3 linked regions of the Homo sapiens genome follow. The protein of the gene in region 1 interacts with the protein of each later gene in a pairwise test. Each region holds a gene or a part of one and is shown on either strand. Other genes may lie near its edges.

Region 1 (3,749 bases):
TTTAGAACAAGTCACTTTCCCTATTGAAACCTCTGTTTTCTTCATCTGGGAATGGGGCAGGCACTCACATAGGTTTGAGGAAGCCACAGGGCTGGTCACTCTTCACTTGTGTCCAGCGTCCCATCCACCTCCCTGGCATGACCTTGCCTCCCCCTGCAGCACTGGCCCATCTAGGGCTCCCCACACCTACATATCTGGCCCTGATGCCCCTCGCCAATCTCTGCCCCCACTGTACCAAAGATGGAGCCCCGCATGGCGACTCCTACATTGCTCTGGGGGCACAGACCTCCATCTGCCTGGAACAGCCTCCCACCTTCCTCATCAAGTCCTGTTTTCTTACAGGAAGACACCCACATGCCCCAGCCATCCCATCCCCAAGGACTGGCCAAGCAGTTCCAGCACACCCCTCGGGTGGTCTCAGTGTGTGCCCTTCTCCAGTTCCTCCGGGTCTGGGCCTGGGTCAGCCCTTTACACACACGGGGTTCCCAACAAGTAGCTTCCAGATGGCCTGGTGAGGCTGCAGGGCAAATTTCCAGGACCATGCCCCACTTCTCCACTCCATCCCCCAAGGACAAAAGCCTCCTCAATTCCGACATCCTAATCCTGCTGCCCCTGTCTCCACAGATCCTCCCCACAGAGAATCCCTGCCTATCCTGCCCAGGCCCTCTGCTTGCTTCTGCCTTCCCAGACCGGCTGCAGTGATCATTTCACCCAGCCATGGTCACTTTCACCATATTGGCCAGGCTGGTCTTGAACTCCTGACCTCGTGATCTGCCCACCTCGGCCTCCCAAAGTGCTGGGATTACAGGTGTGAGCAGCCACCGTACCTGGCTTGACTTCAAGTCTTTATTCTATTTTATTTTATCTTATTATTTTTTTCTGGAGACGGAATTTCGCTCTTGTCGCCCAGGCTGGAATGTAATGATGCGATCTTGGCTCACTGCAACTTCTGCCTCCTGGGTTCAAGCAGTTCTCCATTTCAGCCTCCCGAAAAGCTGGGATTACAGGCGTGCACCACCACACCTGGCTAAATTTTATATTATTAGTAGAGATGGGGTTTCACCATGTTGGCCAGGCCAGTCTCAAACTCCTGACCTCATGTGATCCACCCACCTTGGCCTCCCAAAGTGCTGGGATTATAGGCATGAGCCACCGAGCCTGGCCTATTTTATTTTATTATTTTATTTTATTTTTGTGCCTGGTCGCAAATTTACATTGGACTGGTTAGGCTCAAGCGTCTGGTACACACATTTTCCTTTGTCAGGTCTTGCAAATAAAACTTTGCTCCTAGGGAAGTGGTCCTTCTAAAACGGACCTTGGTTTTGGCTGCCAGATGAGAATTGCTTCCAGCAATGAAGAATGCTGTCCAAGGAGTTCAAGACCACCCGGAGAAACACAGTGAAACCTTGTCTCTAAAAGAAATTGTTTTAGGCCGGAGGCAGTGGCTCACGCCTGTAGTCCCAGCACTTTGGGAGGCCAAGGTAAGAGGATCACCTGAAGTCAGGAGTTTGAGACCAGCCTGGCCAACATGGGGAAACCCCGCCTCTACTAAAAATACAAAAATTACCCAGGTGTGGTGGCGGGCGCCTGTAATCCCAGCTACTCAGGAGGCTGAGGCAGGAGAATCACTTGAACCCGCGAGGCAGAGGTTGCAGTGAGCCGAGATCGCGCCACTGCACTCCAGCCTGGGCGACAGAGCAAGACTCCGTCTCAAAAAAAAAAAAAAAAAAAAATTGTGGGGGAGGGGTGCGGAGGTTGGAGGCGGCAGTGTCCGCTGCAACGGTTGGGGCTGCGCGTGAGAAGGTGGCGGTGTAGGCACCTGTGCTCGGGGAAGGCTGGCGGCGGCGGCCGGGCCATGGCCAGAGACCCCCTCCTCTGGGCTCCCTGAAGTCCTGGGGAGCCGTGACCCATGGGATCGTCGAGCAGCCGGGTGCTGGGCCAGCCGAGGCGAGCCCTTGCCCAGCAGGAACAGGGTGCCAGGGCCAGGGGCTCGGCCCGGAGGCCGGACACTGGAGACGATGCGGCGAGCTACGGCTTCTGTTACTGCCCGGGCAGTCACAAGCGCAAGCGGAGCAGCGGGGCCTGCCGCTACTGTGACCCGGACTCGCACAGGGAGGAGCATGAGGAGGAGGGGGACAAGCAGCAGCCGCTCCTCAACACCCCTGCAAGGAAAAAATTAAGGAGTACATCCAAATATATTTATCAAACATTATTTTTGAATGGTGAAAACAGTGACATTAAGATTTGTGCTCTAGGAGAAGAATGGCGATTACACAAAATATATTTATGTCAATCTGGCTACTTTTCTAGTATGTTCAGTGGTTCTTGGAAAGAATCCAGCATGAATATTATTGAACTGGAGATTCCTGACCAGAACATTGATGTAGACGCACTGCAGGTTGCGTTTGGTTCACTGTATCGAGATGATGTCTTGATAAAACCCAGTCGAGTTGTTGCCATTTTGGCAGCAGCTTGTATGCTGCAGCTGGATGGTTTAATACAGCAGTGTGGTGAGACAATGAAGGAAACAATTAATGTGAAAACTGTATGCGGTTATTACACATCAGTAGAGATCTATGGATTAGATTCTGTAAAGAAAAAGTGCCTTGAATGGCTTCTAAACAATTTGATGACTCACCAGAATGTTAAACTTTTTAAAGAACTCGGTATAAATGTCATGAAACAGCTCATTGGTTCCTCTAACTTATTTGTGATGCAAGTGGAGATGGATGTATACACCACTCTAAAAAAGTGGATGTTCCTTCAACTTGTGCCTTCTTGGAATGGATCTTTAAAACAGCTTTTGACAGAAACAGATGTCTGGTTTTCTAAACAGAGAAAAGATTTTGAAGGTATGGCCTTTCTTGAAACTGAACCAGGAAAACCATTTGTGTCAGTATTCAGACATTTAAGGTTACAATATATTATCAGTGACCTAGCTTCTGCAAGAATTATTGAACAAGATGGTATAGTACCTTCAGAATGGCTGTCTTCTGTGTATAAACAGCAGTGGTTTGCTATGCTGCGGGCAGAACAAGACCGTGAGGTAGGGCCTCAAGAAATCAATAAAGAAGACCTAGAGGGAAATAGCATGAGGTGTGGTAGAAAGCTTGCCAAAGATGGTGAATACTACTGGTGTTGGACGGGTTTTAACTTCGGCTTTGACCTACTTGTAATTTACACCAATGGATACATCATTTTCAAACGCAATACACTGAATCAGCCACGCAGCGGGTCTGTCAGTTTACGGCCTCGAAGGAGCATAGCATTTAGATTACGCTTGGCTTCTTTTGATAGTAGTGGAAAACTAGTATGTAGTAGAACAACTGGCTATCAAATACTTATACTTAAAAAGGATCAGGAACAAGTGGTGATGAACTTGGACAGCAGGTTTCTGACCTTCCCTTTATATATCTGCTGTAACTTCTTGTATATATCACCAGAAAAAGGAATTGAAAATAATCGTCACCCAGAAAATCCAGAAAACTGAAGATCTCATCAGTTGGAAACAGTAGCACTTTGAAAACTTTCAGGCCAGCTTTAATTTAATGGCCCTACTGATATTCACATCTAAGTTGACTAACAATGACAAAGGCCTTATGAACTGTACGGACAATACAGAAGACTATTCTTATCCTCATTGCATTTCTATGCATATACAAAAAAAATCATTTTAAAGCCAAGAAAATATCTGTCAAACCATTTCTGTCAGTACGATGTCAACTCATGCTTTTAATTCAGCATCAGCA
Region 2 (3,749 bases), on another chromosome or scaffold:
CTCTTCCCCTCTTTCTACCATCAAATCATTAATACAGATTGAAGTGTGTACAAAAAGAATTTCAGAGGATGACTGCACACACACACACACACACACACACACACACACACACACACACAGAACAGATCACCAAACAGGAAATCAAGAGCCCTGGAAGTGAGTAGTATTGATTTGTGGTGATAAAAGTATATTTTGACACATTTCAAATCATAAATAACGCATGGACTTTAACTTGCATGACTAATAGCTCAACCCAGGATACATGCTTATCTACAACTTAAACTACCTCTTTCTAAGGAGTCCATAACATGAGGTGAATTATCCCATCGTGAGTAGACTTTTTAAAGGAAAAAATAAACTGTCTTCTTTATGACATGCAGTGTGTGGATGCTCATTTTTACAGTCTTTTCCCGTATGTTAATGAGGAAGGGCTGCATATCTGGTCAGGGTTGTTCTAGCCTTCCCTCCTCACCTCCTTCCCCCTGCTTTTAAATCTGAGACACATTGGAGACACGATCAGTTGTCAACACTAGGATAGAATGTAACCTTGCTTTCCTATGAGCTATTAGTCATTAGTCATGTATTTGCTAGGTTCAGCTGATCTGATGCTTAATCATATTTTATTCGATATTTATCTAGATGCAGGTCTTGCTATAATTAGTCACTTAGTGGTATCTGTGCCTATACTCTTTGAAGCACGGCTGATTCCTTTTAAATCCTGATGTTCGTGGTAAAGGATTAGGGAAATCTGTGTCCAGAAAAATTCACAGACATCTGAAGTTTGAAATCTTAAAGCATGGAAACTCCTGGGATTCTATTTAATTCTGTTCTTAGGTATTTGACAAAGCAGTAAGGTAATGAATGAAAAAGTAAAAGTGATGTTATAGAAAAATTGTTGAAACATTTTTTTTTCTCTGTATGTCTGTGTTCTTTAGAGGATAGTAGGAAGTCAGGGAACCACCAACATGCTTTGCATTTCTATTCTAGTAAAATATATATTAGCTTAGTGTACTGGATAAAAATAATGAGACAAATCATCACCCAGGCGTTTCCTTATTGATGAGAAATATTCCCCCTGTGTTCTCTAGGGGTTTTGTTTGAACCCATTAAATTTAAAATAATGTGATTTCAAGATTACTATGGAAATAACAAATTTAAATTTCAAAAATAGAAGTGATAAGACTGGAAGCTTCTTGTATTAAGACTAATTTGAAAAAACACGAATTTCAAGATTAAAAGTAGTAATATTGTGCTTTTTTTCTCTGTATGTATTTAATCCTTGCAGTCCAAACTTCCCTGCCGTATTAATCAGAATATTTTACCTTCATTCGTATAACTCATTTGGTTCATTATCATTTTTCAAGCATATATTATAAGGTTTTTGGAAACATTTACATTTGGTCTCACATATTCACAGAAGCAATCTGACTAAAATCTGAGATTTGTAAGTATAAGTAGCAAAATTTTAACCCAGGGGACTTTAAAATGTTTTCTTTGCACCGATTTGTATTCATTCAGTAAATGTATTACATGACTTCTGTAGGGTTCCGATGTCTAATAGCTGAGGTAACAAAGAAAATAAGTCACAGTCCTTGGAATTTACATTCTAGTAAATGTAGGTTGCTAAATTGTATTAGACTATGGTGTAGTCAGTGTCACATGCATGGCAAGAAAAGTGAATACGGGACCAATGGGGTCACCATAAAGGGAATGATAGACTGTACCAGGGTTGGGGGGTGGAGAGCTAATGAAAGCTGACACTTGAGTGAAGTATCAAAGGATGAGTAGGTTTTTTCCAGATATAGAGGCATAGGTGGGAGTTTGGGCGTAGAGCATTTCCAGAAGCAAGAGCAGCATGAGCTTAGACTTGAAGAGAAGTGTAAGAACGAAACCCTGAATTGGGTTTGTCCAGGCTTCAGCTGTGTGCAGGGTTGGGGGGTGAAGGCCACAGAGTAGGCAGGAACCTGGTCAAGAAGGACCAGCCAGCTGGCCTTGTATTTTGTGTAGAAAGTGCTGGGAAAAGAGACCATCTTCGATTTCCTATGGGAAAGAACCCTCTGGAAGGTGTGTGCAGGCAGGAGTAGAGGGTGTCAAAGCTGAGAGACCAGCTGGGAGGTTGTTTCTTGAATTCAGGATGTGGCTCACTTGGAAGCAATGTAACGACAGTGAGTGTGGAGCAGGAGGACCAGGCCGTAGGGATCTCCAACTTTGTGACCAAGTGGATATGGGAATGGAAGAGAGAACTTAGGGCTTCCAAGTTTCTGGCATGTTGATATGGTTTCGGTTTGGAAGGGATGGTTATATTGTCCAGACTAACTCACAGTAGTGTCAATTAGTGGAACTAATTTCTTAGAATTTATTTACCCTTTGTCATTTTTATCATGGGAAAAATTTAGCTATCTTTGAAGTTTAAGGAAAATTCTTTCTCTTAAACCTTTTTCTACATTTGCAACATCTGTGTCTTACTGTGCGTTTTATGTGTTCTTTAACCTTGATTTTTATTCTGAATGAAGACCATTGGTCTCAGCGGTCCCTGTGTTTGTTTTCAGGCGATATGAGTCTCATCCAGTCTGTGCTGATCTGCAGGCCAAAATTCTTCAGTGTTACCGTGAGAACACCCACCAGACCCTCAAATGCTCCGCTCTGGCCACCCAGTATATGCACTGTGTCAATCATGCCAAACAGGTAGGTGTGCCAGCCAGGCCACTGGGGGCACTGGGCAAATTGAAAACTGGATGACCTGGGGCAGTGGTAAGGACTAAATGGGCCACTGTGTGTGAAAAAGCTTTCTAAGCCCTAGTCATCATCATCAAGAATTACTGTAATGAGTTGATTAGGGCATAACTTGTGTCCGATCATTGTCAAAGAGCCCATATCTTCCTTATGTACAACTCATTTACTTGCAGAAAAAAGGATTCTACTACAATTATACTTTTTTCCACTTGCCCTGAACTTTTGTCTTCTAATAATAATGTTCCCAAGGTCATTCCTCATACTTTTAGGCCAATATTTAGAGCTAGCGAAGAGGATACAGATTAAGAGCTGGCACCTTTGGGCCCATAAGCCGTAGGTAGGCAGAGGGCCAGGTTAAAAAAAAAACAAAACACCACCGTTCAGTCACTGTCCAACGCTTCCACCAGTTGATAGAGTTCACTTAGTTGGACAGGGAAAGGGAAACCAGAGATAGCATTTTAAAAAGAATTTCCACTGCTTTTATAGACCATAGCCATATTCTTCTCTTGACCCTTCATATCAGAACAATATGATGTTCACAGGACGTGCATTTTCTCTAATTTATGTACTTTAGAAAGCTAATGATAAACCCTGAAGCAAATTATCAATTCTGGCAGGTCACATAATTGCCTATCATTTAACCAATTTAACAGTTGGATATGGTTGTTCTGAGAGGCAGAAATTGTTGGAAACGTTGATTCCTTCTGCTGACAAACTCCATAGATTTGACCTTCTAACCCAACTAAATCTAGTGTTTAAGTTACACAGCATGCCTTTCTGCAGTCTAATTTGATGTAGTTATAATAATATCACTTGGTGTAAAATTTTTATACTCTACAAATATCCGACGGGAGGGTTAGTATTATCTGGATAGCTGGAAAATAAAGTAACATTAGTGGAAAGAATATAATCAAGATTTATTAAAAGCCTATGTTGTCCTCAAAAGCCTAGTGGCTGGCAGCTTTTTTCTGTTTCTTGCTTGTAGCTGCACTTGTATAACTCTTAGTAGTATGCCA
Region 3 (3,749 bases), on another chromosome or scaffold:
CAGGGAGGGATCTCTGAGCCCCGAAGTGAGGTCATGCCAGTTAGCAGTTAGAAAAGGAGGCATTTCTCACACTTGCTAAAGAGTTTGACGCTTGTGAAATATAAACAGGAAGCGGGAGCTCTCCAAGGCGACCTGAAGGAAATACACTGCCAGTTTGGTCAACTTGTGAATGCCAGTTCTCTAGGTCGTCAAGGGCACTGCCAGTTAAGACTGATCCCCTAACTGCACCCGAGGCTACTACTCTTCGCCCAGTCTCGGCAGTGACCCCATTTTTTTTTCAATCCTTCCCACAGCCAGGTCACTCAGCAGTGGGGTGACTGACCCGAAGCGCAGTGGGAAGGGCTTACAGTCATCTCTCAACTCCCCGAACTTGCAGGGCAGGGGAGCGCAGAGGTCAGTGAAATCCCCAGCCAGGCCTTATTTTAGTCATGAGTTTCCACTGGCTCCCTCCTCTGACTGTATCAGCGCTGCTCACACCGCGGGATTGGAGTTTCAGCTGTTTTCCCTGCTCCCGGCTGAGTGAGAAGGTCACAGAGCCCGGACCTTTCCGGGGGAGGTGGGTGGGGCCCTCCGGCAGCCTAAGTGAGATTGCAGAGATCTGGGGCCGCTGGAGGAGGTCCTTCCGCCCCGGGCTTGGGGCTTTGGGTTAGCTTCTCCCCCGCTTCTCTACCTAGGCATCTCGGTTACAATGAAATTAAAAACAAAACACAAAGCAACACAAGTTCTCATTGTTTTTCCCCTCTGTCAGCCAGTGGCCTCGATACAATTTTCCCAGGGCTGCCTTTCCTTTATTGCTCAATTTAACCTCTTCCTAGAGGTTCTGCAAGTTCAAGGGCAGGATCCGTGTCGGATTCATCAACTAGTGCAGCGCCTAGTGCAGAGCAGGGGGCTCAAGAAATACGTGTCGACCGCATGATTGCTAAGATTTCCCTGTAACAGGCGGTTTTTTTTTCTTGTCTCTCTCATCCCTCCTGCCCTGGGTGCAGACCGCGAACAGCGCCGCCGAACTTCCCAACAGGCAGGGAGAGGGCCGATCCGGGCTGGCACGCCACGTCCCCGGGGTCTCAGTCCCTGGGTCAACGCAGAGAGGCTCGCGGTCCGCGGTGCTACGACCTGAGCCCGGCCACGTGAAGCGTCACGCCCTGCGCTGCTGCAGGGCAGGCGCCGCCGCCGCGGTTGTGTAACGCTGCAGCCGGAGGGGAGGCGACCGGGGCGCCTCTGCTCCGGAGGGGGCAGAGGAGGGAGGGAGCGCCGGGCACAGCGCCCGGTATCTTTCTGCGCTTGACTGGCCGGGAGGAAGGGGGTGACACTGGGGCACCCAGGGGGCTGCGCAACCGGGTGCCCGCCCGCCCGCAGGTTGTGCCCAGGAGCGGAGCTCCTGGGAGCGAGGGGCCCTCGGCTCACACCCTCCACGGTCAGGTGCGCGCGGCGTGCTCGGCGGCAGCCTCAGCTGCCCCTGCGCTTGGCCGTCGGCCCGCTTCCCATGGGGTGACATCCGCCCCGCCCCTCGGTCCCTCCCCAAGGCGGGCAATTCCTGGACGCGAGGGTGAGCAGTGGGGGCAGGGAAGCCAGGACGGAAAGAAACCCCAGCCTCTGGGGAAGGCTGGGGGGCCGGGCGACTCCCTCCGCAGCGCGCCGGTTCCTCCAAGCGGGCCGGGCGGGGGAGGAGGAAGAGGGCTGGGCTGGAGCTAGCAAGGGGATATTCCTCTCCCGGCTTGAGTCAGACGCGGGCGGATCCGTCCTCCCCCGTTCCCTCCCAGGAGACGGGAACTTACTTCATTTCCCTGGGGCAGGTTCGCCCACGTTACCAACTTCTCCCCCTCCCCCAGCACCCCCGTCCCTTCCAGCTTCCGCGCCCCCCACCCAACTGGGCAGGACCCAGGTCGTGCTGCCACCCCCTCTTCGGGGAAAGGCGGCCGCAGCCGCAGACACCTGGGGGCCGGGGCTGGGGGTGGGGGCTCCCTAGCAGCCGCCGGAGCGTTGTCCAACACGTGAGACTCATGTGATGAAGCCGGGGGAGGGCGGGCAGGTCGCTCCTTCCCTCCCCGGCAGTGGCCAGACGTGCCTGGAGTCACAGGGTAGAACACGTAGCTCCAACCCACCCACTCGCTCCCATTTAACCCAGCCCGCAGCCTCTCCATTACTCCTCGGCTTGCCCCCCCACCCCCCCACTCCGCCCTAACCGCCCCCCCCTCACCCGCTCCCTCCCGCCTCCCCGCCCGCCCCACTTCTCATTCACTTGGCTCGCACGGCGCAGACAGACCGCGCAGGGAGCACACACCGCCAGTCTGTGCGCTGAGTCGGAGCCAGAGGCCGCGGGGACACCGGGCCATGCACGCCCCCAACTGAAGCTGCATCTCAAAGCCGAAGATTCCAGCAGCCCAGGGGATTTCAAAGAGCTCAGACTCAGAGGAACATCTGCGGAGAGACCCCCGAAGCCCTCTCCAGGGCAGTCCTCATCCAGACGCTCCGCTAGTGCAGACAGGAGCGCGCAGTGGCCCCGGCTCGCCGCGCCATGGAGCGGATCCCCAGCGCGCAACCACCCCCCGCCTGCCTGCCCAAAGCACCGGGACTGGAGCACGGAGACCTACCAGGGTAAGTTGGCACTCCTTGGCCCTTCAAGCCTCAACTGCAGCCCCATGTTATGCGCCACTCTCAACTTGGAGCAGCTCCGGGCGCACCGGGAGGTTCTTGCCCGGCAGAACGCCTGCAGCCGTGCGCAAGCAGTCACGACCCTTCCTGGTCTCTCTTCCTGCAGGATGTACCCTGCCCACATGTACCAAGTGTACAAGTCAAGACGGGGAATAAAGCGGAGCGAGGACAGCAAGGTAAGCAAGTGCACCCCTAGGGACCCTGCGCTCAGCCCCTCGCGCGCGCTGAGTTTCCAAGAAAAGTTTTCTCGCTTTGAGGTTGGCGAGGGGATGCAGGGTGTGGGCTCGGTGCCTCTTCTGAGTGACTTGGAAAAGAAAGGGCAGACGATGGTTCTGGGTGCTACTCTGCTACTCTGCTCCTCTGCCGGACTGTTGCTGCGGGGCTGGGAGGATAGGCTTCTCATCTCCTTCCCCAAGCGCCCACCGCCTCCCCGTGCGTCTTGCAGGAGACCTACAAATTGCCGCACCGGCTCATCGAGAAAAAGAGACGTGACCGGATTAACGAGTGCATCGCCCAGCTGAAGGATCTCCTACCCGAACATCTCAAACTTACAGTAAGTGAGAAGCTGGCCCCTTTCCAACCCAGTCCTTTGCCCAGAGGGCGGGCGGGTCACTCGCCGCCTGCAGGTTCCGCGGGGAACTGCAGACCAGACTGGCGGATCAGAGCTGGCGGGTGGCTCTGCGGTGGGGTCCTCCTCCACAGTCCTGGCGTTTTCTGGCTGACTCATGCAAATGAGGCGAGAACCACTTGGACCTCTCCAAGTTGGCTCCAACACCAACTGGCCTTCCTTTTCAGGAGTTTAACTTCTGGTGATTTTCAGGATTCCCTAGTTTTTCTCACTTAAAGGAACACGCCAAGAAACACACACATTTTATTTACCCCTTCCCCTCTACCACTCCCCCCACCTTTTTTGTTGTTGTTGTCAAATAAGGGGACTTGCTTTGGTGTGTGATTTTTACGGCCTGTCCTTTCTTGACAGTAGCCCTCGGCTACTTCGCAGCCTTTGGTTGGGGAAATGGAAAAAAAAAAAATAGTATTTCGGGAGGAACAAAAAAGCCTGGATGAGCTGGAAGTTCTGAAAGGGTGTAAGGAAAGAA

What was found.
Region 2: the proteins of GMCL2 (region 1) and CHCHD3 interact in binary tests that used the Homo sapiens proteins (3 or more experiments, as listed by UniProt).
Region 3: the proteins of GMCL2 (region 1) and BHLHE40 interact in binary tests that used the Homo sapiens proteins (3 or more experiments, as listed by UniProt).

The regions. Positions count from the first base shown.
Region 1 is NC_000005.10:178,185,460-178,189,208, reverse strand, and holds the start of GMCL2 (germ cell-less protein-like 2), read left to right. Parts: upstream 1-1,837; 5' UTR 1,838-1,909; coding exon 1,910-3,490; 3' UTR 3,491-3,749. UniProt on the Homo sapiens protein: Possible function in spermatogenesis. Probable substrate-specific adapter of an E3 ubiquitin-protein ligase complex which mediates the ubiquitination and subsequent proteasomal degradation of target proteins.
Region 2 is NC_000007.14:132,795,378-132,799,126, reverse strand, and holds part of CHCHD3 (MICOS complex subunit MIC19), read left to right. Parts: intron 1-2,549; coding exon 2,550-2,685; intron 2,686-3,749. UniProt on the Homo sapiens protein: Component of the MICOS complex, a large protein complex of the mitochondrial inner membrane that plays crucial roles in the maintenance of crista junctions, inner membrane architecture, and formation of contact sites to the outer membrane.
Region 3 is NC_000003.12:4,977,204-4,980,952, forward strand, and holds the start of BHLHE40 (class E basic helix-loop-helix protein 40), read left to right. Parts: upstream 1-2,233; 5' UTR 2,234-2,515; coding exon 2,516-2,595; exon of another isoform or gene 2,596-2,758; coding exon 2,759-2,828; intron 2,829-3,097; coding exon 3,098-3,205; intron 3,206-3,749. UniProt on the Homo sapiens protein: Transcriptional repressor involved in the regulation of the circadian rhythm by negatively regulating the activity of the clock genes and clock-controlled genes.